Regions from separate parts of the Homo sapiens genome. Here all the other regions are linked to region 4. Evidence: fine-mapped expression QTL. A gene starts in region 4. Each other region holds a variant in brackets. All regions are shown on one strand. Distances are from middle to middle.

Region 1 (8,101 bases), 85 kb before region 4:
GTAGAGCTCTGTTTTCTTTTCTTTTTTCTTTTTTTTTGGAGACAGGGTCTTGCTCTGTTGCTCAGGCTGGAGTGCAGTGGTGTGATCACAACTCACTGCAGCCTCCACCTCCCATGCTCAAGCAATCCTCCCATTGCAGCCTCCCAAGTGGGACCACAGGCACGTGACTCTACACCTGGCTAACTTTTTGATTTCTTTGTAGAGATGAGGTCTCACTATGTTCCCTCTGTTCTCAAACTCCTGGGCTCAAACGATCCTCCTGCCTCAGCCTCCCAGTGTTGAGATTACAGGTGTGAGCCACTACACCTGGCCAGGACTCTGTTTTCTGCAAGTCTTGGGTTCAGAAAGCCCTGCATTTCAGCATGCAGGGAAAGCTCCGCTTCCCTAAATGGATAAGCTCACCTCTATCCAGCCTCACCCAGTTTCCTTTCTTTTTTTTTCTTTTCTTTTTTTTTTTTTTTTTTTGAGACGGAGTCTTGCTCTGTCACCAGGCTGGAGTGCAGTGGCGCGATCTCGGCTCACTGCAACCTCTGCCACCCAGGTTCAAGCCATTCTCCTGCCTCAGCCTCCCCAGTAGCTAGGACTACAGGCACGTGCCACCATGCCCAGCTAATTTTTTATTTTTAGTAGAGACAGGGTTTCACCATGTTGGCCAAGCTGGTCTCCAACTCCTGACCTCAAGTGATCCGCCCACCTCGGCAGCCTCACCCGGTTTCTATCTCAGTCTCACGCCCCTCCTATCCAGGAACCTCGGTGGGACTCTGGACTCCCAGGTTGGGTCCCCAGCCAATGCATCCCACCTCTAGCCCCAATCTCTGAGCCCACTTGGACAGAGGTCTCTCTCTGTACCTCCTTACAGATTCCATCCCTGGTCCAGGCCTGGAGCTCAGCATCCGCCTACACGAGGCAACATCACCCCACTGCACCAGGAGGTCTCCAGCCCCACCGCCATAGCCAATCTCAGCACAGGCTTTTCTGTCCTCCCAGACACTGAGTAGAAAGAGCCCCTTGCCTGTCCTGAGTAAATTCTTCTCTACCCCAGTCCTAGACATCGCCTACTCTTTTCTCCCCCGACAAGGTCCCCACTACTACACTCAAATCCAGGTGCTCCTGGCCCCACCCTCTCAACCATCCCTGAGCCGTGTCCCCCCATTCCGGCCCGCCCACTTGCCAAATTCGAGGGCTCCAGCACACAGCAAGGAGGACCTCTCCCACCCAACGTCCAATTCCAGCGCTGCGCCAACTCCCAACAGCGAAGCTTCAGGTCCTGCTGGACCATTCCTGTGAACTGGCCACGCGCCCGCCCACCTGTCCGGGTGCCCCATCTCCAGCAGCGCCCGGCACTGGCGCGACAGCTGCGCGATGCTTTCCTCGTAGTTCTCCACGCCTTGCTCCAGCTGCAGGTGTTTCTTGAGCAGCTGCAGGGTGCTCTGTTCGTCCTGGGGGCACAAAGCGCCCACGATGAGGCGGCAGCGGCGGCCCCCGGCTCCAGCGCCCCCAGGCCCTCCGCACCCCCAGCTCGGGCGCACCTTGCCCTTGTCCTCACTCATCATGAGCAGCTCCTGCTCGCCCAGCCACGCCTCCACCTCAGCCACGTCGAAGTAGTACTGCTCCACCTGGAAGGCGGCGTCCAGCACCTGCTGCCGTCGCTCGGCAGCCTCCCGCAGTCCGGCCCAGGCGCTCTGCAGCTGCTCCAGGCCCCGGCGCACTGCCTCTGCCTCCGGGCTGCGCAGCGACGCCAGCGCGCCCGCGCGCTCCAGCACCTCCTCCAGGCGCGGCCCATGCGCCTGGATCTCCCGCCGCAGGCCCTGGGGGCAGGAGGTAAGGGGATGTGGGTGGAGAGGGGGCGTTCCGAGGCCCTGCAAGACCACACGCTCCTCTGCTACTGGCACGGCCCACGGGGCAATTAACAAGCACCCCCAGCTCGCTAACCACGTGCCAAGACCATGTAAACATTTTGCTGATACTCCCTCACTCATCATAACCCTATGCTTGCTGCAGGTGGGAAAACAGGCACAGAGGGGCGAAGTACGGCGCCCAAGAACAAGCAGCCAGTAAGGAGTGACAGGATTTGAACACAGGAGGCTGGTTCCAGAGACTGTGCTCTGAGCCAAGCCGCTTGCCGACCCAAGATGGGCCCTAATACAGAAACCCTGCAGCTTAGCAGCCGAGGTATCATTTGTATACGGTAGAGTGCACAAATCTTAGGTATACAGTTGCACACATTTGTACAGACACATACACCGGTGTGCCCAGATCAGCGTGCGGAACACTTCCATCCCCCAGAAGGTTCCCTCAACCAGCTCTGTACTTGCAGAGTACCTTATTTAACGTTTTGTGTGCCTTAACCTTATTTACTTACAGAGTACCTTATTTAACTTTTTGTGAGTCTTTTTTAACTTTTTGTGTGCCTTAACGTTATTTAACTTTTTGTGTGACTCAACTGATAAAGATAATAACAGCCAGCAAGTCCTCTCCTTATTTTGCTTTTTTAGAGACAGGGTGTCACTCTATCACCCAGGATGGAATGCAGCAGCTTTAAACTCCTGGGCTCAAGTGATCCTCCTGCCTCAGCCTCCCAAGCGGCTGGGACTACAGGTGTGCACCACCATGCCCTGCTATTTTAAAAAATATTTTTGGAGAGACGAGGTCTTGCTATGTTACTCAGGCTGGTCTTGAAGTCCTGGCCTCAAGCGATCCTCCTACCTTGGCCTCCCAAAGTGCTAGGCTTATAAGCATGAGCCACTGTGCCCGGCCAGCCAACGATTCTTGAGTGTCTGCTACCCTGCTACCTGCCAGGTGCTTTGCTAAGTAAGAGCTTTACATAATATAGCCTCACACCTCCTCACTCCCAACCTATGGAGCCAGACAACATTACCATCTCCATTTTACAGATGAGAAGACTGAGGCACAGAGAGGGTGAGGAATTTGCTAAGGTCACACAGCTAGTATCAGGCTGAGATAATCTACCTTGCGGGGTTGTTATAAGGTGATAAACTATGGAGCACTTGGAACTGAGTCTGCATGCACCAAATGCATCATATTTGCAGCTATTTTTGGCTTAACAGCCCCTGTGTATCCAGCACTCTCACTGCACACACAGCTGAGCTCCCCCAATTTTAAGTACTAAGTGCACTTGATCAGTTTCCTCAACCATGACAACGATAAGCCAGTTCTGTCGCCCACACTGTTGACAGCCAAGAGTATTTTCATCAAGACAGGAAAACAAAATCTCAGCAAAACTCCAGTCTCTTAAATAACTCTACCTACTGCAGAATGATCAGGAAGCTTCCAAAATAATCTGTAGACCCACCTCCCCACCATCCTTCAGTGCCCTATTCTTCCAACATACATTGTTTGGTGAAATGAGGATAATGACAATATCTACCTCATAGGGTTATAGAGGGGATTAAATTAAATAATCAGCATAAACCCTAAGACAGTACTTAGCACACAGTAAATCTTTTTTTTTTTTTAATCTTTTTTTTTTTTTTTTTTTGAGACGGAGTCTCGCTCTTGACACTCAGGCTGTATTGCAATGGTGCAATCTTGGCTCACTGCAACCTCCGCCTCCTAGGTTCAAGCGATTCTCCTGCCCCAGCCTCCCGAGTAGCTGGGATTACAGGCGCCCGACACCTCGCCCGGCTAATTTTTTGTGTTTTTAGTAGAGACGCGGTTTCACCGTGTTAGCCAGGATGGTCTCGATCTCCTGACCTCGTGATCCACTCGCCTCGGCCTCCCAAAGTGCTGGGATTACAGGCGTGAGCCACCGCACCTGGCCTTAATTTTTTGCATTTTTAGTAGAGACAGGGTTTCACCATGTTGGTCAGGCTGGTCTCGAACTCCTGACCTCAGGTGATCCACCCACCTCAGCCTCCCAAAGTGCTGGGATTACAGGCATGAGCCACTGCACCCAGCCAGCACTTAGTAAATCTTTAATCGATGTTTTTTTTTTTTTTTTGAGACAGGGTCTCACTCTGTCACCCAGGCTGGAGTACAGTGGTGTGATCTTGGCTCACTGCAACCTCTGCCTCCTGGGTTCAAGCAATTCTCCTGCCTCAGCCTCCCAGGTAGCTGGGATTACAGGCACCTTCTACTATGCTCAGCTAATTTTTGTATTTCTGGTAGAGACGGGGTTTCCCCATGTTGCCCAGGCTGGTCTCAAACTCCTGGGCTCAAGTGATCATCCTGCCTTGGCCTCCCAGAGTGCTGGGATTACAGGCATGAGCCACCACACCTGGCACAATGCCTTATTATTATTATTCCTCTTTTATGTCTTGCTTTAGGCTTTGGTGAAATAGTTGCTTTGACCAAGGGGTTCCCTTCGTATGCAGTTTGAGAACCACTGCTCTAAACCAACTCTACTTTAGATGTGGAAACTGAGCCCCAGAGGAATGAACAGATTCAGAGATTTTTTAGGAGCTCAAAGGCCCCCTCCCCCACCTTGCTCAGGTTAGGGGGCAGTAGTATCCTCTTGCTGATTATCTCTGTCCTTTGTCCCTATGGGTGTTTTTGTTTGTTTGTTTTGGGGGACGTGTGTGTGTGTGTGTGTGTGAGAGAGAGAGAGA[GAT/T]AGGGTCTCATTCTGTTGCACAGGGTGGAGTGCAGTGGGGTGTTCAAGGCTCACTGCAGCTTTGACCTCTGGACTCAAGGGACCCTCCCTCCCCAGCCTCCAGAGTAGCTGGGACTACAGGGGTACACCATCACACCAGGCTAACTCGATGTTTTGTGATTTTGTTTGTTGTTGTTTTACTTTTTCCTTGTCCAATAGCTATTCCCCTTCCTTCTAGTCTCAAGCCCCTGATTTTCCTTTGGGAAACCCCCTTTGCCTCCATCTCAGCCTTGGTAATTAAGCTAAGGCTGATTCCAGCAGCAGGTTCCAGGGGAGGGCGCTTAACCAGGCCAGCCCAAGGAGCAGTCCGAAACCCCATCCATCATGATTAGTTCAGGGATGGGCGTGGGATGCCATGGGCATGGTGAGCCAATGAGAGTTATTCCTGAGACTACTGCTGACATTATTGAGGTGGGAAATTCTCTTCAGTTTTGCTGGTGGGAGGTAAACCTGAATCCACTGGAGGCCTTTTATCACCAGGAGAGGAGGACTGGCCTAAGAAGAAAGCTCATGCAGAAAAACAAACAGGCCGGGCGCGGTGGCTCACACCTGTAATCTCAGCACTTTGGGAGGCTGAGGCGAGTGGATCACTTGAGGCCAGGAGTTCGAGCCCAGCCTGGCCAACCTGGTGAAACACCCCACCCCCCGCCGTCCATCTCTACTAAAAATACAAAAATTAGCCAGGTGTGGTGGTGCACACATGTAATCCCAGCTACTTGGATGGCTGAGGCAGGAGAATCGCTTGAACTCAGGAAGTGGAGGTTGCAGTGAGCAAAGATTGTGCCACTAAACTCCAGCCTGGGCAACAAAGCAAGGCTCCATCTCAAAAAAAAAAAAAAAATAGAGCCAAGAGTCATGAAAATATATGGAAGCACCTGGATACATCTGTATCTGCTGTCCACAGTCTTGTTAATTCCAAAAGCCAATACATTCATTGTTTTGGCTTTAACCACCTTCAGCTGTTTCTATCACATGTATCCAAATGTCCTAACTCGCTCCCTCACCTGGCTCTGCTCACCTGGTTCTTTTTGATGTGCTGCTGGACCGCCTGCAAACCGTTGCCTCGCTCTGTCTGCATGGCCAGTGGCAGCCGCTCCTGAACCCATGCCTGGAGAGGACACAGGAAGCAGGTCAAGGGGAGAATGCATCCAAGAACCCCTGCATCGCAACTAAACTTTAAACCTGCACGGCATCCCAGGCCCTTCCTTGCCTAAGAGCCCAGTTGAATATTCAGCCTCCTCCATTTTTTGTTTTTTTTTTTTCTTTGAGATGGGATCGAATCCCCAGGCTCAAATAATCCTCCTACCTCAGCCTCCCATGTAGCTGGGACAACAGGCACCACCACACCTGTCTCAGTCTCCTCTGTTGACATACTCTTTCTTGCTGTCTGCACTTAAGCCAGGCTCACACCGTTGGCCTTTGCACATACAGGTCTTGTTTCCTATCATATTCCTAACCACCCTGAATTGTCACTGTCTGGGGACAAGTCTGTTTTCCCCGTTGGACTCTGAACCCTCTGGGGCACAATGGGGTCTGCCTTGGCCACCCCTGTGGCCCCACTATCATCCAAACACAGGGCTGGGGCTAGAATGATCAACTGAGTGAACAAATGAATGAGCAAATCAGGAAATTGAGTGATGGAATGAGGAACAGAGGAGTGAATGAATGAATAGTTAAGTAAATAAATGAGTGGAGGAAAGAACAAACTATGGATGAGTGAATAAATAAATGAGTGACTTCATGAATAAATCAACGAATGATTCAAAGTGAGTAAATGAGTGTGAATGAATGAATGAGTGAACGGCTGAATGCGTCTTTCAGCGTATGAGTGGGAGGGTCTCAGCCGTCTCCATCTTCAGCCCCGCCCCATGCCCACCTTCTCCGCCCCACCGCCCCGCCCCGCCCCGCCCCAGGCCCCTGCGCTGGCCTCACCAGCTCGTCGTCCAGGTCGTGCGCCACCTGGTGCAACTCCTTGGAAGCCAGCAGCAAGCGGCGGCGCTCCTGCAACGGCTCGAGCAGGCGCACCAGGCGCTCGCCCACCGCGTTCTGCCGCTCACCCACCAGCTCCTTGCTCGCCGGCTCCAGCGGCAGCGCCGCCGTCTGCGCCTGCAGCTCTCCCACCTCGCGGTACCACTCCTCCACCTGCGACTCCATGGACTGTGGGGACAGAGGCAGGGTCAATGGGCCCCACCCGCCCTCCTGATCCTGCTGTGGCTCTCCAGTACCCTTATGGTGACAGCCAGACCCCTCACCGCGGCCCACCCTTCCACCCTCTCCTTGTTCAGTCCCCTCCAGGAGCGATGCGCTCCGCATGAACCTGCATCACACTAAGCTAGTCCCTGCCTCGGAGCCTTTGCCTTTGCTGTTTCCTCTGCCAGGCATGCTCTTCCTTGTCAATCAGATTTCAGCTGGAGTATTACCTTCTCAAAGAGGCTTACCTGACCCCGGAACTAAAGTGGTCCATTAATTCACTAATTCCCAGAACAACCTTCAAGATTGGTAGTCTCCCTGTTTTACAGAGGAGGAAACCAAGGCCAAGAGAAGTTAAAGAATTTGTCCAAAGAGTCAACTTTCCAAAATTATTACCATCAAATATAGTAATAATTTTTTGTTAACGCTTTTTTTTTTTTTGAGATGGAGTCTCGCTCTGTTGCCCAGGCTGGAGTGCAATGGCGTAATCTTGGCTCACTGCAACCTTCACCTCCTGGCTTCAAGTGATTCTCCCGCCTCAGCCTCCTGAGTAGCTGGGATTACAGGCACCTGCCATCATGCCCGGCTAATTTTTGTATTTTTGTAGAGATGGGGTTTCACCATATTGGCCAGGCTGGTCTTGAACTCCTGACCTCAGGATGAACAAATCAGCCTGGGTGCTGTGTCATCCAGGCTGGAGTGCAGTGGGCAACCTCAGCTCACTGCAACCTCCACCTCCCAGGTTCAAGTGATTCTTGTGCCTTGACCTCCCAAGTAGCTGGGACTACAGGCACCTGACACCATGCCTTGCTAATTTTTTTTGTATTTTTAGTAGAGATGGGGTTTCACCATGTTGGTCAGGCTGGTCTCAAACTCATAACCTCAAGTGATCTGCCCATCTTGGCCTCCCAAAGTGCTGGGATTACCGGATAAAAAAATTTGATAGTAAGAAATTATCAAAAATAAATACAAAGCTATAGTAATTTGGATGGCTGCTGTGTCTTAGGAATAGACAGAAAGTGCAAAAGCAGACCCAAATACACAGGAAAATTCATGTGTTTCATAGGTGCCAATTCAAATCCCCAAGGGAAAGATGGATTATTTAATGAATGGTCATGGGCCAATGGCTAACCAATTTAGCTGGATCCTTTCCTTGCTGTTTGTACTGAAAACAATTCCAGATGGATTAAAGACCTAAACAGAGTAAGTAAATCCATAAGGCACTAAAAGAAAACCTGGGCAAATGCTTTTATAATGTTGGGATGGAGAAAAATCTTTCCAAGCATAAAAAACATAAAGGGA
Region 2 (8,101 bases), 550 kb after region 4:
GACACATTGTTCACTATTACAAACAATACTGCAATGAATATTTTTTTGATTTTTTTTTTTTTGAGACAAGGTCTTGCCCTGTTGCCCAGGCTGAAGTGCAGTGGTGTGATTATAGCTCACTTCAACCTCAAACTCCTGGGCTCAAGCAATCCTCCAGCCTTGGCCTTCCAAGTAGCTGGGACTACAGTCTCATGCCACTATACTGGGCTAAGTATTTTTATTTTTAGTAGAGATAAGGTCTTGCTATGTTGCCCAGGCTAGTCTCGAACTCCTGGTCTCAAGTGATCCTCCCACCTTGGCCTCCCAAAGTTCTGGGATTAGAGGCGTAAGCCCCTGTATCTGACCTGAAATAAATATTCTTGTACCTCCCTGATTTTGTGAGTGTGCAGGTAGATCTCTGCGATTAATAATCAGTTGGTGAAAGGAGGTGTTCTTCAGCCCTGGAGGGGTTGAGCACAAGTTCAGGCGGACTTCAGATCCCTTGAAATTATATACAGAATTTTATACCTCTCTCTGAAAACTACTTTTTATTTTTTTTGAGACGGAGTCTCGCTCTGTTGCCCAGGCTGGAGTACAGTGACGTGATCTCGGCTCACTGCAACCTCCGCCTCCTGGGTTCAAACGATTCTCCTGCCTCAGCTTCCCGAGTAGCTGGGACTACAGGCACATGCCACCACGCCCGGCTAATTTTTTGTATTTTTAGTAGAGCTGGGGTTTCATTGTGTTAGCCAGGATGGTCTTGATCTCCTGACCTTGTGATCCGCCCAACTCGGCTTCCCAAAGTGTTGGGATTACAGGCATGAGCCACCGCACCCGGCCTTTCATTTTTTTTTCCGTCAGATCCTCACAGAGGTCAGTGACTTGACAAAGGTGCAGAGCTACTGTCAGAATCATAGTAGGATACTCACAAGACATTGTTAGGAGAGGAGTTAATGAAATAGTGACTTCAGCATGGTCTTTTTTTTTTTAAGTGTAAATATATCTAAAGGTAGGAAAAAACTCAACAGGATCTATACATTTGTATGTGTCTGCCTACAGGGTGATTTTCTTTTCTCATTTTTGCTCCTGTGCATTTTCAGTTTTCTGTAATGAACGAATATTATTTGTGTCATTTAAAAATGGAGATTGGCTGGGCATGGTAGCTTACGCCTGTGATCCCAGTACTTTGGGAGGCTGAAGCTGGAAGATTACTTGAGCCCAGAAATTTGAGACCAGCCTGGGCAACATAGGGAGACCCTATCTCTACCAAAAAAAAAAAAAAAAAATAGCTGGGTGTGGTGGCGCCTGCCTATGGTCCCAGCTACTTGGGAGGCTGAGGCAGGAAGATGGCTTGAGCCCAGGAGGTCGAGGCTGCAGTGAGCTATGATGCTGCCACTACACTCCAGGCTGGGTGACAGAGCAAAACTGTCTCAAAAAAATACATAAATAAAAAAATAGAAAAATTAAAATGGAGATCACTGGACTTAGGGGAGAAACAGATTTGAGCAGCCATGCTGGACTGAGAGCTCTGAGCATGGGGCCATGGCCTGTCTCCATCACTGCAGTGTCTAAAGCACCAGCTGGCACAGAGCAGGCCACACAGTGGGACTCACAGAAGCTTTGCTGGGAGCCGGAATGAGTGAATGCTCTGTCTTCCTTCTGGGCCATTGCTCATGCTGTCCTCTCTCCTGTTGCTCCTTTTATCATATTCCATCCTCTTGGCTAAGACTTCTCCACTTCAAGTCTCAGCTCTGGCACAGCTCAGAGAATGTGTAAGGAAAGAGTAAGAAAGAGATGCCCAGGCTGGGTGCGGTGGCTCACACCTATAATCCCAGCACTTTGGGAGGCCGAGGTGGGAGGATTGCTTGAGCCATGAGCTCCAGACCAGCCTGGACAACATAGTGAGACCCCCATATCTAATTTAAAAAATTTTTTTATTAATTAAAAAAAAAAAAGGCTGGGTACGGTGGCTCATGCCTGTAATCCCAGCACTTTGGGAGGCTGAGCAGGGGTGGGCAGATCACTTGAGGTCAGGAGTTCAAGACCAGTCTGGCCAACATGGTGAAACCCTATCTCTACTAAAAATACAAAAATTAGCTGGACGTGGTAGCAGGCACCTGTAATCCCAGGTGGGAGAATCACTTGAACCTGGGAGACAGAGGTTGCAGTGAACCGAGATCGTGCCAATGCAGCCCAGCCTTGGTGACAGAGCAAGATTCCATCTCAAAAAAAAGATGCCCCAGGGCACAGAGAGACATAGTTCTTATCTCCTGGTTCTTAGTCAGACTTCAGGCTTCTCCAGAGCCTGGGAGGCTTATAAACAACACAACCTCGTCTCTGTGTTCTGGAGGCTGGAAGTCCAAGATGAGGTCACCAGCACTGCCAGGTTCAGGTGAGGGTGCTCTTCCAGGTTGCAGATGGCCTACTTCTCCTTGTATCCTCACACGGTGGAAAGCGGATCTGAGAGCTCTCTGAGGCCTCTGTCATAAGGGCACTAATCCCATTCATGAGGGTGCCACCCTCATGACCTAATCACCTCCCAAAGGCCTCCCCCCACTCTTAATACCATCATGTTGGGTGTTAAGATTTCAACATCCCTGACCAGCAAGGTTAGATCTGGCCATTTTTCTAGGTTTTCACAGCCTCCTATCTCCCCACTATCCCAGCTCTGAACCCTCAGCCTGTACCTCCCCTATCCCATCCTTGACCCCTCTGCCTGGGCCTTTCTGATCCTGGCCTTGACTTTTCTGCCTGTGCTTCTCCCATCTCTGCCCTGACCCCTCTGAGCTCTCACTGTCTGGTGATGTGTCTGTTTCTCCCAATGGACTGGGAGCCCCATGAGGGTAGGGCTTGGGGCTGTCTCCGCCACCTTCGTATTCCCAGGATCTCCCAGCTCAAGGCCAGGCACAGAGTGAGTGCCCAGTGAATGTTTATTAAATGCAGCAGTGACTTAATTCACTTAGTGAGTGCCTGGGATTCTACCAGGCCCTGTTCTATGCACTGGGGATAAAGCAGTGATCAAAGCAGACCCAAACCCTTGTCTTTGTGGAGCTGCCATTCTGATGGAGTAAGACAGATGATAAACATGGTCAATTTGTGAATTATATTTCAGAAGGCCAGATGCTATAGAAAAAAAAGGAAAGCAGGGAAGGAGGCTATGGAATAGGGAGAGGCTGCCTTTTTTTTTTTTTTAGACAGAGTCTCACTCTGTTTGGCACGATCTTGGCTCACTGCAGCCTCCACCTCCTGGGTTAAAGCAATTCTCCTGCCCCAGCCAACTGAGTAGCTGGGATTACAGGCGTGCCCCACCACACCCAGCTAATTTTTTTATTTTTAGTAGAGACAGGGTTTCACCATGTTGACCAGGCTGGTCTCAAACTCCTGACATAAAGTGATCCACCCGCCTCAGCCTTCCAAAGTGCTGGGATTACAGGTGTGAGTCACTGCGCCCGGCCCAAGGCTGCCATTTAAAAAGGGGTGTAGGCTGGGTCCCATGGGTCATGCCTGTAATTCTAGCACTTTGGGAGGCTGAGGCAGGAGGATTGCTTGAGGCCAGGAGTTGAGATCAGCCTGGGCAACATAGCAAGACCTCATCTCTATAAAACAAAACAAAACAAACAAACCATAAAATAAAATCATAAAATAGGGCAGTCAGGGAAGGCTTGAGTCAGTGACGTTTGAGCACATACTCTTTTTCTATATTCTCCTATTTAAAACTTTTAATTAAAAAGTACTTTAATGAGGGCTGGAGGCCAGATGGCACAGGGGCCTGACCACCTCCTCTTCACCCACTCTGCAGGTTGACAACCAGCGCTCGCGCCTGCCAGTCTCCCTGAGTGAGGGTCGCCTGCGTGTGTACCAGAGCGGACCACGGGCCGTGGTGGAGCTGGTCTTTGGGCTGGTGGTCACTTATGACTGGGACTGCCAGCTGGCACTCAGCCTGCCTGCACGCTTCCAAGACCAGGTGTGCGGGCTGTGTGGCAACTATAATGGTGACCCAGCAGACGACTTCCTCACGCCTGACGGGGCTCTGGCTCCTGACGCTGTGGAGTTCGCAAGTAGCTGGAAGCTGGATGATGGGGACTACCTGTGTGAGGATGGCTGCCAGAACAACTGTCCCGCCTGCACCCCAGGCCAGGCCCAACACTATGAGGGCGACCGACTCTGTGGCATGCTGACCAAGCTCGATGGCCCCTTCGCTGTCTGCCATGACACCCTGGACCCCAGGCCCTTCCTGGAGCAGTGTGTATATGACCTGTGTGTGGTCGGTGGGGAGCGGCTCAGCCTGTGCCGTGGCCTCAGCGCCTATGCCCAGGCCTGTCTGGAGCTTGGCATCTCGGTTGGGGACTGGAGATCACCAGCCAACTGCCGTGAGTGATGCCCTGGGTGGGGGCTGGGAGCATACAGTGAGGGGCAGGAGATCCCTAGC[A/G]TCTGCTTAATATCTGAGAAGTTATTATGGTTCAGCCTGGTGCTGGGCAATGCCAGGGGCCTAGTGATGGCCAAGACAGCCAGCTCTGTCCACAATGAGCCTAAGGTTGGAGAGACGTTTCACTAGACATTGACAGTCTGGAGGGGTCCAGGCAGGATGGGGAGGCCCACTCGGATGGGTTGGGGCCAGGATGGGAGAGAGACAGGCAGATGAGTCAGGGCTGGGATTGCGGGGGACACAGGCAGAGGGGTTGGGGCCAGGATGGAGGAAGTCAGTGGGGCTATGGGAAACCAGAGGAGGTTCCTGGCCCAGCCTGGGGAGCAGGGGTGGTCAGGGAGGGTTTTCTAGAGAAAGATGTCCAATTTGAAACCCATAAGAGGGGCTGGAAGTTGCCAAGAGAAAGAGGAGGAAGTGAGTTGCAGGCCCAGAGAACAGCATGCTCAAAGGCTTGGCAGGACGGGAATTCTTGTCTGCAGAATCCCAACACAGAGACGTGACGTCTCTTCCTTTGCCTATAGCCCTCCCATGACTCCCATTGCCCTCTAGATAAAGTCCAGGCTCTTTAGCCAGGTGTCCGTCTGCTTAATCGTTCACTCATTCATTCCACAAGCATTCCTTGAACCCCTGCCTGCCCCCTGTGCATGCTAATGATATTGAAGACACAGTGAAGACCAGCATAAATCTATTCCTGCCCTTGTGAGTGAGGCTCCTAGAGACATGTCCCAGAGGCAGAAAGGACAGGTAGGAGGGAGGAAGAGGCATCCAGGCCCAGGCCCAGAGGGAGGGGGAGTAAGTACAGGGCAGACATAGAGGCCACTAGGTGTTTGTCTTGGCCAGTTCTGTGTCCCCACTGCCCAGTAAGCACCCCCCCAACCCCATGCCTGGCGCAAAATAGGAATCAGAGAGTTCATTTATTCTCCCTTTCACTTCTGCAGTATTTCCTGAGCACCTGCTGCGTACCAGGCCCTGTCCTTGGTGCTGGGGACTCAGCAGTGATTGAGACAGATCAGGTCCCCACTCCCGCAGAACTTCTCTCTTAGCGGCAGGGGAGGGACACAGACAGTGAGCAGATGAACTAGGAAGTATCTTCAGAGAGGCAAAGAAACAAGTTCATTCAATGACAGTGACTGTGAGGCTCGTGAAGAGGGTGATCAGGGAAGGCCTTTCTGGGCAGGTAACATTGGAGCTGAGACCAGGGTCAGGCAATGGAGTCAGCTAAGTACTAACTAACAGTGATGTCCACAGAATGTTTCCCCATAGATCAACTCATTTAATCCTCACAACAACCCTGTGAGGTCTCGACTACATTATCCCATCTTACTGATGGGGAAACTGAGGCACGGGGAGATTGGAGTCAGTGGCCGAGAAGGAGAGATCTGGGATCTGAACCCAGGCCACCTGGGCCCCAGTGGGCTTTCTGGGGAAAGGGAAGGCAGAGGGAACAGCCAATGCAAAGGCCCTGAGGTGGGAGGGTGAGGACCCGGGAGGAGGAGGCAGCTGGGGCTGGGGCAGAGTGAGCCCGAGGGAGAGGGAGAAGAGGTGAGGGCTGAGAGGTGAGAGGAACAGATGGCACAGGGCCTCCTGAGGCATGGGGAGGACTCTGGCGTTTACCCTGAGTGAGAGGAAGCCACAGTAGTGCTCTGAGATGGGGAGGGACCTGATCTGACCCAGATGTTCCCAGATTCCTCGGCCTGGTGTGAGGAACAGGCTGTGGGGGCAGGAGGGAGCCCAGGCAGGAGGCTGCTGCGGTGGATAGGATCAGAGGCAGATTCTGTAACTGGGTGGATTTTTTTTTTTTTTTTTGAGACAAAGTCTTGCTCTGCGCCCGGGCTGGAGTGCAGTAGTGTGGTCTCAGCTCACTGCAACCTCCGCCTTCCGGGTTCAAGCGATTCTCCTGCCTCAGCCTCTTGAGTAGCTCGGATTACAGGCCTGCGCCACCACTCCCGGCCAATCTGGGTAGATTTTGAATATGGAGCTCACAGGACTTGCTGACAGATTGGTTGTCCAGTGAGCGTTAGGGGGTTGGCGGGGTGGAGATTAACTGCGTCGCTGGGGTGTGGCGCAGGAGCACCCAGAAGAATGGCAGTGCCATTATCTGAGATGGCGAGCTCTGAGAGAGGAGCAGGGTTTGGGGATGGAATTCCTGGGCGCCGTCCCCGACAGGGCGCTCTTCGACGGCCCCTGCTACGCGGGCCTGATCCACCCTCTCTGATCTCCCCGCAGCCCTGTCCTGCCCTGCCAACAGCCGCTATGAGCTCTGCGGCCCTGCTTGCCCGACCTCCTGCAACGGGGCTGCGGCGCCGTCCAACTGCTCCGGGCGCCCCTGCGTGGAGGGCTGCGTGTGCCTCCCAGGCTTCGTGGCCAGCGGCGGCGCCTGCGTGCCGGCCTCGTCGTGTGGCTGCACCTTCCAGGGTCTCCAGCTCGCTCCGGGCCAGGAAGTGTGGGCGGACGAGTTGTGCCAAAGGCGCTGCACCTGCAACGGCGCCACCCATCAGGTCACCTGCCGCGACAAGCAGAGCTGCCCGGCGGGTGAGCGCTGCAGCGTCCAGAACGGCCTCCTGGGCTGCTACCCCGATCGCTTCGGGACCTGCCAGGGGTCCGGGGACCCACACTATGTGAGCTTCGACGGCCGGCGCTTCGACTTCATGGGCACCTGCACGTACCTGCTGGTCGGCTCATGCGGCCAGAACGCAGCGCTGCCTGCCTTCCGGGTGCTGGTGGAAAACGAGCATCGGGGCAGCCAGACTGTGAGCTACACGCGCGCCGTGCGGGTGGAGGCCCGCGGGGTGAAGGTGGCCGTGCGCCGGGAGTACCCCGGGCAAGTGCTGGTGAGCGACGTGGCGCCCAGGGCTGGGTGACGGAGCAGGAAATACCCTCTGAAGACTTGGAGTTCTGGATGGGCCTGAGGGTGGGGGAGGCCTGTTAGAAGATTTTATTTTTTTCGTTTTCCTTTTTCCTTTTTGTGCAGAACGGAGTCGCACTAAGTTGCCCAGGCCGGTCTCCAACTCCTGGGCTCAAGTGACCCTCCCGCCTCAGCTTCCTGAAGTGCTAGGAAGTGAGCTATGATCGTGCCACTCCATTCTGGCCTGGGTGACAGAGTGAGACCCCTGTCTCTATTTTAAAAAGGAAGCTAGTGGCTGGGCACCGTGGCTCACGCCTGTAATCCCAGCATTTTGGGAGGCTGAGGCGAGTGGATCATCTGAGGTTTGAGACCATCCTGGCCAACATGGTGAAACCCCCTCTCTACTAAAAATAGAAAAAAAAATTAGCCAGGTGCAGTGGCTCACACCTGTAATCCCAGCTACTAGGGAGGCTGAGAGAGAATCGCTTGAACCCAGGAGGCAGAGGTTGTAGTGAGCCAAGATTGTGCCACTGCACTCCAGCCTGGGCAACAGAGTGAGACCCTGTCCAAAAAAAAAAAGAAAAGAAAGCTAGTATGGTTGCAGCAGCCTGAGTGAGAGGGACAGTGAGAAGAGGTGAGGCGAGGGAGGTAATGGGGAGATAGACAGATCATGTAGGTTTTGAAGGCCATGGGTGAGGGATTTGGATTTAAGCTGGTGCTTTAGGAATGAAGAGGGGTGAATGGTGAGCCAGGCAGAGGGAACAGCAAGTGCAAAGGCCTCGAGGTGGGACTGAGCGTAATATGTCCAAGAGAATAGCAAGGAGGTCAGGGTAGCTGGAGGTGAGTGAATT
Region 3 (8,101 bases), 74 kb before region 4:
TTGAGACCAGCCTGGGCAACACAGCTAGACCCCCTCTCTTAAAAAAAAATAAAAAATAAAAAAGAGTAAAATGGTTAAACAAATCCAGACCAGTATGGAAAAATAGCCAAGTGTTACTGTTAAGAAGAAAAAGCATGCTGGGTGCGGTGGCTCACGCCTGTAATCCTAGCACTCTGGGAGGCCAAGGCGCGTGGATCACCTGAAGTCAGGAGTTTGAGACCTGCCTGGCCAACATGGTGAAACCCCATCTCTACTAAAAACACAAAAAATTAGCCAGGCGTGATGGCAGACACCTGTAATCCCAGCTACTCGGGAGCCTGAGGCAGGAGAATCACTTGAACCCGGGAGGCAGAGGTTGCAGTGAGCCGAGATCATGCCACTGCACTCCAGCCCGGGCAACAAAAGCAAAACTCCATCTCAAAAAAAAAAAAAAAAAAAAAAAAGCCGGGCACAATGGCTCATGCCTGTAATCCCAGCACTTTGGAAGGCTGAGGCGGGCGGATCACGAGGTCAAGAGATAGACACCATGCTGGCCAACATGGTGAAACCCAGTCTCTACTAAAAATACAAAAAATTAGCCGGGCATTGTGGCAGGCGCCTGTTATCCCAGCTACTTGGGAGGCTGAGGCAGGAGAATTGCTTGAACCCGGGAGGCGGAGGTTGCAGTGAGCTGAGATCGCGCCATTGCGCTCCGGCTTTGGCAAAAAGAGCGAAACTCAGTCTCAACAACAAACAAACAAAAAAAAAAAAAAAAAAGAGGAAGAAGAAGAAGCAATTTAGAACCTACCTATGAATATAAATTTATAGTGGATTGCACATGCATAAAAATTCCCTGGAGTAAACAAGAAGTTCATAACAGATGGTACTTACTGGGGGAGGGGATGAGAACTTAATGAATGGGGAACAGGGATGAAGGCGATAATTTTCCCATGGGATTTCCCTAGAGGTTTTGATGTCTTCACCATGAAAATTTATTTATTCAAAAATTGAAATTAAACATGAAAAGCAAATAATATAAAAACATTAAACATCCATATAGGTACACTTGTAAATGCACAGAAAGAGGTCTAGATGGATGCACACCAAATAACTGAGGCTCTCTTTGGGATGTGGGATTGGGAGGCAGATAGGAGTGAGACTTTATGTTTTACTGAAGACTGCTCGGTTAGTAAAATTTTTTCCCAAAAGAATATATTCATATATTACCCTTGTAATTCTAAACAGATGGAGGAAAGCTAGAGAAGAAAACAAAATAACAATTAAAAAATTAAGTGGTAGCAGATTACCACAAATGACTGCAAAACAAAACCCCAAACTCAAGAACCAAGCCAAGACTTCTTGATTCAAAGTTCTGTAGTGCAGAGTTGTTGGTTTTGCCTGCCCAAAATCCATCCTCTCCTTCCAAATACATCAAAACTCACTCTCAGGTCCTGAGCTTCCTGAAGGGCAAATGAAACCTAGAGAGTCATGGGTAATCACATGACCCAAGTGGGGCCAAGCAGAACACTGAAAACACCCTGGTCATAAAGATTGGGTCAGATATGAGCACGTAACCTTAGATGGGCCAATGAAAACTCTTCCCACTTTTTCTTTTTTGGTAGAGGTGGGGTCTCGCTGTGTTGGCCAGGCGGGTCTCCAACTCCTGGCCTCAAGCAATCCTCCCATCTTGGCCTCCTAAAGTGTGGGATTACAGGTGTGAGCCACTGTGCCCGGCCACTCTCCCCATTTTCGCCAGGAAAATGTGTGTGCACAGAAGAGATGCTCTCTTTCCCATGGGCTTCCTAAGTTGGGAGGAGGTAGGCCGGGCATCCTGGGGTCATCCTGCCAACATCAGGGACTCCCTGACCATGAGGCCAACACAGAAGAAAGCGGTGCTCAGAAATGAAGACAAGGAGATTTGTGAAGACGTAATTTGAGTTACTGATCACTCCACCCCTCAGACCCCGAGCCAGCACCTTCATAAATTGAAGACATAATTTGTGAATTATGAAGACATAATTAGCTGAGATCGCGCCACTGCACTCCAGCCTGGGCAACAGAGTGAGACTCTGTCTCAAAAAACAAAAAAACAAAAACAAAAAAAAAAGGAAAGAAAGAAAGGATGGGGTCCCTTGCCTTGAGTCCCAATAAGGCAAGGACTGGGACTGTATAGTCCCTGAATGTGCACTCCTCTCCTAGGCCATGCTGAGCTGGATACAAAAACATGGGACAGAGAAGCAGAACAGGGGGGAGGAGGGTGTTTCCTTGGCCAGAGAAAGAGCTTTGCTTAGGGTGGGGGTGGGCCTGGAAAAAGTGTGGGGTCCCCAGGGACAGAGCCTGGCAGCTGCAAAGCCTCTAGTGCATTTTCTCATCTGGCAGGAGACCAGTCCCCCATCTCTCCAAGCAGGAGCCTGTGGCTGAGGCCGACCAGCTGGCCAGGTCCCTGAGGGCTGGGGAGCCAGGACTTGAGACTCCACCATCTGGCTTCTTGGCCAGGAAGCACAGCTTGGCAACAGGCCCCGAGAGAGGATTCTGGGTCACGTGGCCAGGACCTGGGAGGTGGGGTCCCAGAGAGCCTGCTGCAGCAGCGGGTGTGGTACGGGATGAGGGAGAGGACACAAGGAGGACATGAGGAACACGGGAAGGAGGCAGAGACAGAGAAGTCAAATAAAAAGAGACAGAGAGACTGGGGTGGTGGCTCATGCCTGTAATCCCAGAACTTTGGGAGGCCAAGGTAGGCAGATCACCTGAGGTCAGGAGTTCAAGACCAACCTGGCCAACATGGTGAAACCCCATCTCTACTAAAAATACAAAAATTAGCCGGGCGTGGTGGCTCACGCCTGTAATCACAACTACTTGGGAGGCTGAGGCAGGAGAATCGCTGGAATCCGGGAGGCGGAGGTTGCAGCGAGCTGAGACTGTGCCATTGCACTCCAGCCTGGGTGACAGAGTGAGATTCCGTCTCAAAAAGAAAAAATAAAAATAAAAAAATACAAAAATTAGCCAGGCATGGTGGCGGGTGCCTGTAATCCCAGCTACTGGGGAGGCTGGGGAATCGCTTGAACCTGGGAGGCGGAGATTGCAGTGAGCCAAGATCGCGCCACTGCACTCCAGCCTGGGTGACAGAGTAAGATTCTGTCTCAAAATAAATAAAGAGACAGAGAGAAGGGAGTGAGAGAGTAGGACAGAGAGGGACACAAAGGGAAGAGAGAGACACAGAGATGGCGACGGGAGGACAGGAGAGAGGCTGAGGGGGACAGATCGCTCACACACTGCACACCACTACACCCCTCAGACCCCGAGCCAGTACCTCCCTCAGCCCAGCCTGGCCCCAGTGCCCTAAGGGTGGATGGGACAGCCAGGAAACGTGCCAGGCTGGATGGCAGCCAACCCCTCTCCTGTGTATGCCCCAGGGGACAGCAGGGCCTTGGCAGGTCCCTTCCCCAGTAGCAGCTCCTGAGGGGCAGCTGGGCTCCGTCTGGGTGCCCTGGCCCACACAGTCACTTCCTGCCTCGGGCTCCCTCTGCTGGGAAAAGGGCCCAGGAGTCTCGTGCTGGAGCCTGCCTCTGGCACCCATCACTGTGTGACCCCAGGGCCACTCCCTTGTCTCCTCTGGGCTTCAGCCCCTCCCTTGAACAATGGGGACCCCCATCTCATGGTTTGCTGGGCTTGGTTGAGACTGAACCCCCTACAGGGAGGGAAGAGCTAACTCTGTACTCTGGCTAAAGCAGGAGGCCCCAACTCCTTCCTCTAAAACCTAAATAGTACAAAAGAAGGTCAAAGATGGTCAAGCTCGCCAGTAGCATTGGAAAAAAATACAAATACACACACTGCAGTGAGATACCACTTCCCAGCCATCGGACTGAGAAAGATCTAAAATGTCTGACAAAACCAAGTGTTGGCAAGGACGAGAGGAAACAGGAGCTCATGTGTACTGCTGGGGAGAGAGTGAGCAGCCACAGAAGGACCTGGGCAGGCAATTTGGCAAAAGCAAGTGAGCTAAAGATGGTTCTAACTTTTAACACTATATAAATATTTCATTTACCACCTCCAAATTACTTTTCTTTTTTTTTTTTTTTTTTTTTTTTTTGAGATGGGGGTCTCACTCTGTCGACCAGATTGGAGTGCAGTGACACGATCACAGCTCACTGCAGCTTCAACCTCCTGGGCTCAAGTGATCCTCCCACTTCAGCCTTCTGAGTAGCTGGGAACACAGGCATGTGAATCTCGCTATGTTGCCCAGGCTGGTCTGGAACACCTGGGCTCAAGCGATCCTCCTGCCTTGGCCTCACAAAGTGCTGGGATTACAGGCATGAGCCACTGTGCCCAATCATCCATGTTGCTTTTTTAAAATGTGTTTTGGGGCCAGGTGCAGTGGCTCACGCGAATAATCCCAGCACTTTGAGGGGCTAAGGCAGGAGGACTGTTTGAGCCCAGGAGTTTGTGACCAGCCTGGGTAACATAGTGAGACCCCATCTATCAAAAAATAAAAATAAATTAAAATTAAAAAGCAGCATGGAGAGGGGTAAATGCCCCAAATGGAATATGAACAAAAA[C/A]AAATGAAGTAACCGTGTATCACATAAGTAACAACCAAAGGGAAGGTGAAACAACTAGCTTTTGAAAACAGTAGAGTGATGGTGATATGCTCTCAGTTTTATGACAGTTAAAATTAAAGACTGGCCAGGCACGGTGGTTCATGCCTATTATCCCAGCACTTTGGGAGGCCGAGGCGGGCGGATCACTTGAGGTCAGGAGTTTGGGACCAGCCTGGACAACATGGCGAAACCCCATCTCTACTAAAAATACAAAAATTAGCCGGGTATGGTGGCGGGTGCCTATAGTCCCAGCTACTCGGGAGGCTGAGGCAGGAGAATCACTTGAACCCAGGAGGCAGAGGGTTGCAGTGAGCCGAGATTGTGCCACTGCGCTCCAGCCTGGGTGACAAGAACAAAACTTGGTCTAAAAAAAAAAAAATTAAAGACCTGTGAATAAATACTGAATCTTAGATTTGTTGGGTCAGCAGTTCTGAAACCACTTAATGCATTATGTCTTTTCACCTTCACAATGTCCTTATGAGGTCAGAAATATCATTATGCCCATTTTACTGAAGAAGAAAATGAGGCACAGCCAGGCGCGGTGGCTCATGCCTGTAATCCCAGCACTTTGGGAGGCGGAGGTGGGTGGATCACTTGAGGTCAGGAGTTTGAGACCAGCCTGGCCAACATGGTGAAACCCCGTCTCTACTAAAAATACAAAAATTAGCCAGGCGTGGTGGCAGGTGCCTGTAATCCCAGCTACTCAGGAGGACGCTGAGGCAGGAGAATCACTTGAAGCCAGGAGGCGGAGGTTGCAGTGAGCCGAGGTCCTGCCACTGCACTCCAGCCTGGGCAACAGAGTGAGACTCCCTCTTAAAAAAAGAAAAAGAAACTGAAGCATGGAGAGAAAAGTAACCTCCTTGGGCTATCCAGGTGATAAGGCACAGAGCCAGGGCTTGACCCAGGCAGCCCAGCGCCAGCATCCATGCCCTTCACTGAGATGCTCTGCTGCTTCCCACACTCCTGCTATCCACCAGGGGGTGAGCATTGAGGTCCTTCCCATTGCAAGGAGAAGGCATCCAAGGCTCAGAGGGAGAGACGAAGGCAGCAAGTGGGAGAGCTGTGACTCAGAACCAGACCTGCTGGAGTCCCAAGTCTGTGCCTTCAGCCACTGCAAAACACTGCTGGGGAAGAATTAGTAATCACTGCAAGATAATTATGAATCCTAGCAATAGGCTGGGGCAGTGGCTCACGCCTGTGATCCCAGCACTTTGGGAGGCCGAGGTGGATGGATGCTTCAGCCCGGGATCTTGAGACCCATAGTCCAAGCTTCTTCACCCTGCCCTGTGCAGGACTGACCTGCATGGACCAGCCCTCCTGTCCTCTGGCTTCCATGTGGGTTGGCCTCAAACATGGCTTATACTTTTCAGTGCAAAATGAAAACACAAGGTCCCTTGTTCAAATATTTATTAAGAATTTTATCCAGGGGCAGTGCTTCACCCCTGTAATCCCAGCACTTTGGGAGACTAACGTAGGAGGATCACTTGAGGCCAGGAGTTTGAGACCAGCCTGGGCAACACAGTGAGGCCCCCGTCTCTATAAAATACTACAAAAATTATCTGGGCGTGGTGGCACACGCTTGTAGTCCCAGCTACTCAGGAGGCTGAGGTGACAGGTTCACTTGAGTCCAGGAGTTCAAGGCTGCAGTGAGCCATGATCACGCCATTGCACTTCAGCCTGGGTGACAGAGGTAGAAACTGCCTCAAAAACAAAAAAATTCAAGACATCAATAGTAGGGCATTAAACCAAGCATGGAGCCCTGTGTCACTGCACGGGCAAACACCCATGAAGCCAGCCCTGGCTGACAAAGGGAAGCCCAGAGGAAAGTGAGTCTGGGGTATTATCTCCCCAGCTCTTCCCTGCTATGGTGCCATGGTCTGGCTGCCGTTCTTTCTTTCTTTCTCTTTTTTTTTTTTTTTGAGACAGAGTCTCACTCTGTCACCCAGGCTGGAGTGCAGTGAGGTGCAATCTTGCCTCACTGCAACCTCCGCCTCTCAAGTTCAAGCGATTCTCATGCCCCAGCCTCCCGAGTAGCTGGGATTACAGGCATGTGCCACCACGTTCGGCTAATTTTTGTATTTTTAGTAGAGACGGGGTTTTGCCATGTTGCCCAGGTTGGTCTTGAATTCCTGATCTCAAGTGAACCACCCGCCTTGGCCTCCCAAAGTGCTGGGATTACAGGCGTGAGCCACTGCGTCTGGCCATGGCTGCCGTTCTTGACTAAGAGTGCCAGCTCCTGTCTGGCAACTCTCCCCTTCCAAGTTCCAATAACTTTTCCTTCTCTACCTTCTCTGGCTAGGGAGGAGCAAAAGCTCCCCTCCATGAGTCCCACAGCCCTATATGCTTCCTGCAGCTTCCCCGTTCTCCACTCACACCTTTGTCAAGAAACTCAAGTTTTCTGCAGGTGAGCCTGCTTCTGTTTCTGGCTGGGACCCTGACAGTCAGATGCCCCTTTCTTGCAGGCTTACCACATCCTGGGCACTGTGCTAAGTGGCTCCTTTCTGTGCACATCCCCACCTGGCCCTGGGAGACCTGCACTGATGATAGAGTCCTATTTAAGAGGGAGGACAGAGGCTCAGGGAGGGACTAAAGGTGGTATTGAATAGCCACTTGGTAGCCATGTGACCTCTGTGAGCCACAGATCCTTTCTGTGCTGTGGTTTTCTGCTGGGTGGGGATAATAACAGGACCTCCCTCATGGGGCTGTTGGGGAGGAGAGAGGAGTTAACAGTGCCCAGCACATTGTGTACATCAGCAGTTCTCAAACTGTGGCCAAGGAACCCCTGGGGGATCCCTGAGATCTTTTCAAGGCATCTGCAAGGTTACAACTATTTTTATAAAAATACTAAGATGTTATTTGCCTTCACCATTCTCATTCTCTCTCCAGCATGCAGCAGTGTTTTTCAGAGACCTGATGACCTGTGCTAGTGAAATGGATTGAATACAGACACGGATGGGAGAAGCTAGCTCTCTTCTATTCTAGACATGAAAGAGAACTACAGTCTGGATGCCATGGCTCATGCCTGTAATCCCAGCACTTTGGGAGGCCAAGGCAGGCCGATCACCTGAGGCCACGAGTTCGAGACCAGCCTGGGCAACATGCTGAAACCCCATCTCTACTAAAAATACAAAAATTAGCCAGGCTTGGTGGCACAGGCCTGTAATCCCAGCTACTCCAGAGACTGAGGCAGGAGAACTGCTTGAACCCAGGAGGCAGAGGCTGCAGTGAGCTGAGATCAAGCCACTGCACTCCAGCCTAGGTGGCAGAGCCAGACTCCGTTTTAGTTTTTTTTTTTAGTTCAATAAATAGAGATAAAGACTGGCCAACATAGTGAGATTCTGTTTCTTAAAAAAAAAATCAATCAGGCATGGTGGTGTGGGTCCGTAGTCCCAGCTACTTGCGGGACTGAGGGAGGAGCATCACTTGAGCCCCAGAGGTTGAGGCTGCAGTGAGCCGTGATTGCACCACTGCAGTCCAGCCTGCTAACAGAGCGAGATCCTGGCTCAAATAACTAAATAAAATAAAAT
Region 4 (8,101 bases):
TTCGAGACCAGCCTGGCCAACATGGTGAAACCCGGTCTCTACTGAAAATACAAAAATTAGCTGGGTGTGGTTTCGGGCTACTGTAATCTCAGCTACTCAGGAGGCTGAGGGAGGAGAATCGTTTGAACCCAGGAGGCGCAGGTTGCAATGAGCTGAGATTGTGCCACTGCACTCTATCCTGGGCGACAGAGTAAGACTCATTCTCAAGAAAAAAAGAAGAAGAAGAAGAAGAAAAATTTAAAGTGGAGGGGGCAGGCACAGTGGCTCATACCTGTAATCCCAGCACTTTGGGAGGCCAAGGCAGGCAGATCGCTTGAGGTCAGGAGTTCAAGACCAGCCCGGCCAACATGGTGAAACCCCATCTCTACTAAAAATACAAAAATGAGCTGGGCATGGTAGTGCATGCCTGCAATCCCAGCTACTCAGGAGGCTGAGGCAGGAGAATCGCTTGAACCTGGGAAGGCAGAGGTTGCAGTGAGCCAAGATGGCACCACTGCACTCCGGCTTGGGCAACAGGGCGAGACACCATCTCAAACAAAAATAAAAAAATAAAAATAGGCCGGGCACGGTGGCTCATGCCTGTTATCCTGGCACTTAGGGAGGCCAAGGCGGGTGGATTGCCTGAGCTCAGGGGTTCGAGACCAGTCTGGGCAACTTGGTGAAACTCCATCTCTACTAAAATACAAGAAATTAGCCAGGCATGGCATTGTGCACCTATAATCCCAGCTACTCAGGAGACTGAGACAGTAGAATCGCTTGAACCTGGGAGACAGAGGTTGCAGTGAGCTGAGATCGTGCCACTGCACTCCAGCCTGGGCGACAGAGTGAGACCCCATCTCAGAAAAAATAAAATTAAATTAAATGAAAATAAAAAAATAGAAAACAAAAAATTATTTAAAAAAAGAAGAAATTGGCCGGGCACAGTGGCTCACACCTGTAATCCCAGCACTTTGGGAGGCCAAGGTGGGTGAATCACCTGAGGTCAGGAGTTCCAGACCAGCCTGGCCAACATGGTGAAACCCCGCCTCTACTAAAAATATAAAAACTAGCCGGGTATGGTGGTACATGCCTGTAATCCCAGCTACTCAGGAGGCTGAGACAGGAGAATTGCTTGAACCCAGGAGGCGGAGGTCGCAGTGAGCCGAGATCGCACCACTGCACTCTAGCCTGGGTGAGAGAGTGAGACTCCATCTCAAAAAAAACAAAAAAAAAGAGAAGAAATTTAAAGGGTTAAGTGACATTAGATGTATCTCCTTTACCTTCTGGGCCCCCAGGCCTGATTCTAAGACTAACGGCTGGGCGTGGTGGCTCACACCTGTAATCCTAGCACTTTGGGAGTCTGAGGCGGGTGGATCACGAGGTCAGGAGTTCAAGACCAGCCTGGCCAACATGGTGAAACCCCATCTCTACTAAAAACACAAAAATTAGGTGGGCAAGGTTGCAGGTGCCTGTAATCCCAGCTACTCAGGAGGCTGAGGCAGGAGAATTGCTTGAAACCGGGAGGCGAAGGTTGTAGTGAGCCGAGATTGTGCCACTAAACTCTAGCCTGGGCGACAGAGTAAGACTCCTTCTCAAAAGAAAAAGGAAAAAAAAAAGACTAACAAAGGAGGAAGTTGGGAGATCAATGTCCTCAAAAGACCCAGACAATTGCCAACCCACTGAATTCTAGGAAGGCAGGGTCTAAGTCTTGGTCAGTAGAGTGAGTAGAGTGGAAATTGTCCCTTAGGGGGACACATTGAAATCTTTTTTTTTTTTCTGAGACAAGGTATTGCTCTATCACCCAGGCTAGAGTGCAGTGACACAATCATAGCTCCCTGTAGCCTCCAACTCTTGTGCTCACGCGATCCTCCCACCTCAGCCTCCTGAGTAGATGGGACTAGAGGCAAGCTCCACCATGACCAGGTAATTTTTGTATTTTTTGTAGAGAGGGGGTCTCACTATGTTGCTCAGGCTGGTCTCAAACATCTGGGCTCAAGCTATTTGCCCACTTCAACTTCCCAAAGTGCTGGGGTTACACATGTGAGCCACTGTGCCCAGTCCCAAATCCATTTTTGTTCTTCCCTCCTTCCATGGAAAAGTGAAAGTGAGCACACAGCTACCTACCACCTGTGTGACCTTGGCTGAAATACTTCCACTCTTTGGGCCTTAGTTTGTTCATCTGCAAAATAGTAATGATGGCCCGGCACGGTGGCTCATGCTTATAATCTCAGCACTTTGGGAGGTCAAGGTAGGTGGATCACTTGAGGCCAGGAATTCGAGACCGGCCTGGCCAACATGGCAAAACCCGGTCTTTACTAAAAAAAATACAAAAATTAGCCAGGCGTGGTGGCACGTGTCTGTAGTCCCAGTTACTTGGGAGGCTGAGGCAGGAGAATCGCTTGAACCTGGGGGATGGAGGTTGCAGTGAGCTGAGATTGACTCACTGCACTCCAGCCTGAATGACAGAATGAAACTCTGTCACACACACACAAAAGGGTAGGCCAGGCGGTGGCTCACGCCTATAATCCCAGCACTTTGAGAGGCCAAGGAGGTGGGTGGGTCACCTGAGGTCAAGAGTTGGAGACCAGCCTTACCAACATAGTGAAACCCCATGTCTACTAAAAATTCAAAATTAGCCAGGCATGGTAGCTCATGCCCGTAATCCCAGCTACTTGGGAGGCTGAGGCAGGAGAACTGCTTGAAGTCGGGAGGCAGAGGTTGCAGTGAGCCAAGATCGCGCCATTACACTCCAACTTGGGTGACAAGAGTGAAACTCCGTCTCAAAAAAAAAAAAAAGTAATGATAATCGTACCCGTTTCTTAGCGGTGTTTGAAGAGGTAAGTTATTAATGCAGGGATCATGGTATCTGGTACACTGCAAGCCCTTGATACATGTTCCTTGCTATTATTCTTCATCTTTTCCTCACACATCTCAGCAAATCGATTTGCCTCTTCTGGAGTCAGACAGAAATGAGTTCAAGTTCCGCTTTATTCTTGCTGTATCTTTAACCGAGTATCTTTAACTTGGCCTTTCTGTGCCTCAGTTTCCCTCCCTGTTAAACGGTGGTTACAGCTGTTTTCTTCAGTGGAAGACACTTAGAGATGGGGAGGCCCTTAGCACTCCTGTTAGCCCTCTGGCCAGGCCGAGGATCAGCTCTGGCCATAACGCGATTGAATGGGAAGGAAGGGAGCAGGTAATAGGGAAGCCGGGAAGGGGTGTCCTGCGAGCCTCCCCCCAACACCCCCCCCCCCCCGCAAAGGCTGGTGGGGCGCTGGGCTGCGGTGGCATCAGAGGCTTTAACCCTTCCCAGGCCGCGCCTCTCTCCCTGCGGTCCAGACACTGCGCCCAAGGAGGGGGCCTGGGAAGGACAAGGCCTGGGGGTAAGACCCACGCGTGGCGCGGAAGCTAGACCGGGTGGGGGGGTTGTGGGCTCGTCCTGCCCTCGACCCTTTGCCTCCCTCCAGCCGGGGAGACCCGGGGCTCCAGCCATGCCCCGTGCGCGCGGAGGAGGGATGCTCGCCAGGTGGGGACATACTTGGGGGAGGGGCTGTCGGCCCCCCTAGCAGCTCACCTGGGCCCGCGGCCGCCAGCGTCGCTGTCTCCGCTGCTCGCCGCGACCGACCGCCCTCCCTGTCGGCGTCCGCTGCCCGGCCCGGCCCGGCCCGGCCCAGCCCGGCTCAGCTCGGCCCCGCCGGCCCGCGGCTCAGCCAGATCCGCATGCGCCGCCGCGCCTCCCTCTCTCGCGCCGCCGCCGCGCTCAGCGCGCCCCCGGGACCCCCTCCCGCCCGCGGTCCCCGCGCCCCGCCGCCCGAGGCCCACGCGCAGTCACACCCGGCCGCGGCGTGGGGTGCACGGCTGCACTCGCGAGGGCACGGCGGCGTCACGCGCTGCACACTCCCACGGGGTCACGCTCGCCACGCTGCCATACTCGCGGGGGCCTCGGCGCACAAACTCACCCCCGCATCCACGCGCTTGCGCGCCGTCACTCCCTCCTGTGGGGTCTCACGGGGTCACACCCTCACGCCGTCACACGCGGCGTCCACACTGGAACGGTGTCACCCACCACCACACAAATCCAATAGGGTAACCACCGCCCACGCGGCGTCACACACAAATGCACCTGTCACACACAGCCGCACACTCCCCGGCAGTCACAAACAGTGTCATAGGCCCACACATCACGCACAGCTTCACAGCCACAGTGTCACACACTCTACACACTCGAACCTTCATAGCAGTCGCCCCGCACATGCTGCACCGCCGCACCTCACACATCATAGTCACAGGGGGTCACAATGAGCAGCTCAACACAGACACCCACAGCCACACACTCGAATGGGGTCCCGGTGTCACACATCCTTACACGAGACATGTGGTGTCACACACTGTCACAGTCTAATTAGTCTCACGCTTCCATGTAGCACACCTCACACGTCCCACACCCTATCGTACAGGCTGACGCAGTGTCACCCACGGTGTCACCACAAGGTCACAAAAGAACAGAATCAATGCCTGCCACACGTGGTGTCACGCACGTGTAGTCACACTGTAACACGGGATCACACTCAGAGGATGACACAAGGTGTCACCCACAGTCCTGCTTGCCCTCCGGGTCACTGAGTCACACAGGGTCATATAAGTGCATAGGTACGCCGTGACACAGTGTCTTACATCCAAGTGCACACACACACTCTGTCCTCCTAACTTTCTCCCCTTGCTGGTTCTGGGAGGCCCTGGGGCTTAGAGTGCGCCCCAGATCCGCTCCAGGCTCCGGGAGAGGGGGCGTGAGCTACGAGAGGCCGTGGGTGAGGCTCGCCTGGCCCCGCCCCTCTCCGGGAGGTGGAGCGCGGAGGCAGGGCGCTGAGTGACAAGTTATCTCGGCTCCGTCCACTCTATTTGTTGCTATGTGGAGGCGTGGCCTTCTGTGGCCCCGCCTTCCAGTCTAAGTGGCGCGCAGAGAGGGCGGTGCTGGACGGTGAGCGAATGCAAGCTGACGCCTGCCCCGCCCATCCGCGTTAGGCCCCGCCCCTTGACCTGAGCCGCGGGCGGAGAGTCTGAGGCGTGGCCCTTCGAGCCAGCTCCGCCCCGTTGTTCCTGGCTTGAGTAGGGCAGAGAGCACCGCCCAGCAGCCAGTGGGTTCCCGCGCGTGCCGAGACTCTGAGGCCTTGCACCCCCACGATCCCGTACGATGGCCGTCAAGAAGATCGCGATCTTCGGCGCCACTGGCCAGACCGGGCTCACCACCCTGGCGCAGGCGGTGCAAGCAGGCATGAGCCGGGGCGGGCGGGGCATGTCACGGGACAGACGGGCAGAACTTTAGGAAGGGGCACCATGGGGTCGGGCCGAGGCTGATTGGGGCCATGAGCGCCCCAGCCAGGTGTATGAGGACTCAGGGGCCAAAGCAAGTGGCCACGGGGGCAGAAATGGGGAAAGATGTGAGATCCAAGTTTATGTGAGTCCAAGCCAGAGAGGAATTGGCCCCGGGAGCCCCGGGAGGACTCCACTGGCACAGTCGTGTGTAAGTCCAGGGCTCTTATGCAATGCGGTTGTCATTATTGTGGTTGTGGTGGTGGTTGTTCGCACTCCCAGAGAGGATTTACTAAGCCAAGCTTGCTCTGTCGTCTCTTCACATGAGAGCTTTCAAAATGGGGTGGGAACTAGTATCACCCTACTTGACAGATGAGAAAACTGAGACCCAGAGAGTGACTTGCCCAATATCACACAGCTGTTAACTGACAGGACTGGGATTTGAACTCAGCTCATGCTCTTAACCACCACAAGTCCCCAGGCTGGAAACTGAAAAAGTTGGGGGGTCAGGTTGCTGCGAGTACCTAATGGGAAGGAGTCACAGAGAGACATGAGTGAAGACTTGGGGACAGCAGTCCTGGGAAAGTCAATGAGGGCTGAAAATTTGGAGTTGCCCCAGGAGAGAGGGCAGAAAAGGGGATAACCATCCCCCAGCACTCCCTGCCCCCACAGCCCAGACTTGACCAACTCCCAGCTGGGCCTGGGACTTCCAGATATGGGGCCCCACCCTTGCAGGCCTTGGGGACGCTGAAGATATTGACTATCTGCGTGCCCCAAAAGGGTGGAGGCCAACAGGACCCCACTCTGCTGTCTCCCTTGGAGGGACTCTGAAAGTTCTTCTCTAGGTCCATAACTCTCCCCTTCCCCAGGGAGACCACGTGAGGATCTTGACTTGTGGAGAATGGGGAGCTGTGGGCCTCTCAGTAAAAACCAGTTTGCTGATAAGCATTTATTCGGGAGTAATGGAGAAGGAAGTAAGAGAGAGAAGTTGAGAGGCGCTGAGTCACCTGGAAATCCACTAATTCCACCGAATTCCACTCGCCCACCCTGCTGGTCATAGCTGGGACTGCACTCAGAGGGTTAAGAACTGGAGCCTAGGGAGCTTCAGAGCTGTGGCTCTGAAAAATCTCTTCCCAGCTCTCAGCTTTGCTGTCCCCCTCAGCAAAGGGAAGGGCTGGCCAGGCACGGTGGATCATGCCTATAATCCCAGCACTTTGGGAGGCCAAGGCGGGAGGATGGCTTGAGGCCAGGAGTTTGAGACTAGCCTGGGCAACGTAGCAAGACCCCATCTCTACAAAAATACAAAAAAAAAATAAATTAGCTGGGCGTGGTGATGCATGCCTGTAGTCCCAGCTACTCAGAAGGCTCAGGTGGGAGGATTGCTTGAGCTCAGGAGTTCAAGGCTACAGTGAGCTGTGTTTGCACCACTGCACTCCAGCCTGGGTGACAGGGTGAGACCCTGTCTCTCAAATTTAAAAAAATACATAAAAAGAAAGAAAAAGAGGCTGGGTGCGGTGGCTCACGCCTGTAATCTCAGCACTTTGGGAGGCTGAGGCAGGTGGATCACGAGGTCAGGAGTTCGAGACCAGCCTGGCCAATATAGTGAAACCCCGTCTCTACTAAAAATACGAAAAATTAGCCGGGCATGGTGGCTGGTGCCTGTAATCGCAGTTACTTGGCAGACTGAGGCAGGAGAATAGCTTGAATCCGGGAGGCAGAGGTTGTGGTGAGCCGAGATTACGCCACTGCATTCCAGCCTGGGCGACAAGAGTGAAACTCTGTCTCAAAAAAAAAAAAATTAGCTGGGCACAGTGGTACGTGCCTGTAATTCCAGGTACTTGGGAGGCTGAGGCACAAGAATCGCTTGAACCTGGGAGGTTGCAGTGAGCTAAGATTGCATCACTGCACCACTGCACTCCAGCCTGGGTGACACAGCAAGATGAAAGGAAAGAAGGAAGGAAGAAAAGGAGGGAGGGATGGAGGGAGGGAGGGAGGGAAGGAAAGAAGGGAGGGAAGGAGGGAGGGAGGGAGGGAGGGAGGGAGAAGGGGCTTGGATTAACTGGAGTTCACAATGGTTCTGTAGGGCCAAGAGTCTTAACAGGCATGAACTCTGGTGCCAGCCTGCCCACATTCAAGTCACCAGCTCTGCGGCTTACAGCCTTTGTGACCAAATGCCTTGTCATCTGTGTACCTAGATATGTGTAAGATCATGACAAAACTGGTAGTACTTGCCCTAGGGCTCTTGGGATAATTAAATGAGATCTTATATAGGAGGTACTTAGACTAGCATTGAATTTTGCAGTCTCTGGATCAGACTTACTTAGGTAAAAATTCAACCTTCTCTACCTACTAGCTGTGTGATCCTGGCCCGGTTGCCTAAAATTGCCTCAGTTTCCCCATCAATGTGGACAGGATAATGATACCTACCTTGCAGGGTTGTTGCAACCTGATGCTTCTCAAACTGTGAGTTACAATGAGATCTGAAACATATGGTCACAACGTGTATCAACAATATAGGGTAACAAATGATGACATAGTATCAAAATGTATCACATGTTAAGTATTAGTTTTGTGAAACTCATTTTAATTATATATGTATGCGTTTGTGTACACCAGGTTAGGCAATGAAATTTTTTGTATTGATGGCTGATTTTTTTTTTTTTTTTTTTTTTTTTTTGAGACAAGAGTCTCACTCTGCCGCCCAGGCTGGAGTGCAGTGGCACAATCTTAGCTCACTGCAAGCTCCGCCTCCCGAGTTCAGCCATTCTCCTGCTTCAGCCTCCCAAGTAGCTGGGACTACAGGCGCCTGCCACCA

Direction of the effects. Alleles are on the strand shown, and positions count from the first base shown. SD is a standard deviation of normalised expression in the study named. Not every link is listed here.
With allele GAT in place of T in region 1, the expression in prefrontal cortex of the gene that starts at base 3,855 in region 4 is higher (moderate effect, 0.45 SD a copy in ROSMAP).

What was found. PIP is the estimated chance that this variant, and not a neighbour inherited with it, causes the effect. A credible set is the group of variants that fine-mapping cannot tell apart.
Region 1: its variant is the best candidate, but not a certain one, in a credible set for the expression of SPTBN4 in prefrontal cortex (ROSMAP, PIP 0.63).
Region 2: its variant is the best candidate, but not a certain one, in a credible set for the expression of SPTBN4 in pancreas (GTEx, PIP 0.84).
Region 3: its variant is the best candidate, but not a certain one, in a credible set for the expression of SPTBN4 in pancreas (GTEx, PIP 0.78).

The regions. Positions count from the first base shown.
Region 1 is chr19:40,547,854-40,555,954 of GRCh38, reverse strand. SPTBN4 (spectrin beta, non-erythrocytic 4) reads right to left here. Exons shown (of 36, transcript NM_020971.3): 21 at 6,542-6,766; 22 at 5,628-5,717; 23 at 1,530-1,808; 24 at 1,309-1,439. Among named protein-coding and RNA genes, the nearest start is that of SHKBP1, 25 kb to the left of the region's middle. The variant GAT/T (reference allele first, on the strand shown) is at 4,569.
Region 2 is chr19:39,914,320-39,922,420 of GRCh38, reverse strand. It overlaps FCGBP (Fc gamma binding protein), which reads left to right. Exons shown (of 36, transcript NM_003890.3): 4 at 3,779-4,349; 5 at 6,632-7,236. Among named protein-coding and RNA genes, the nearest start is that of FCGBP, 16 kb to the left of the region's middle. The variant A/G (reference allele first, on the strand shown) is at 4,409.
Region 3 is chr19:40,536,783-40,544,883 of GRCh38, reverse strand. All of the region lies in intron 20 of SPTBN4 (spectrin beta, non-erythrocytic 4), which reads right to left. Among named protein-coding and RNA genes, the nearest start is that of SHKBP1, 36 kb to the left of the region's middle. The variant C/A (reference allele first, on the strand shown) is at 4,536.
Region 4 is chr19:40,462,755-40,470,855 of GRCh38, reverse strand. SPTBN4 (spectrin beta, non-erythrocytic 4) reads right to left here and starts at 3,855. Exons shown (of 36, transcript NM_020971.3): 1 at 3,551-3,855. BLVRB (biliverdin reductase B) reads left to right here and starts at 5,111. Exons shown (of 5, transcript NM_000713.3): 1 at 5,111-5,246. The coding sequence starts at 5,168. RefSeq lists a silencer at 4,697-4,896 and an enhancer at 5,918-6,037.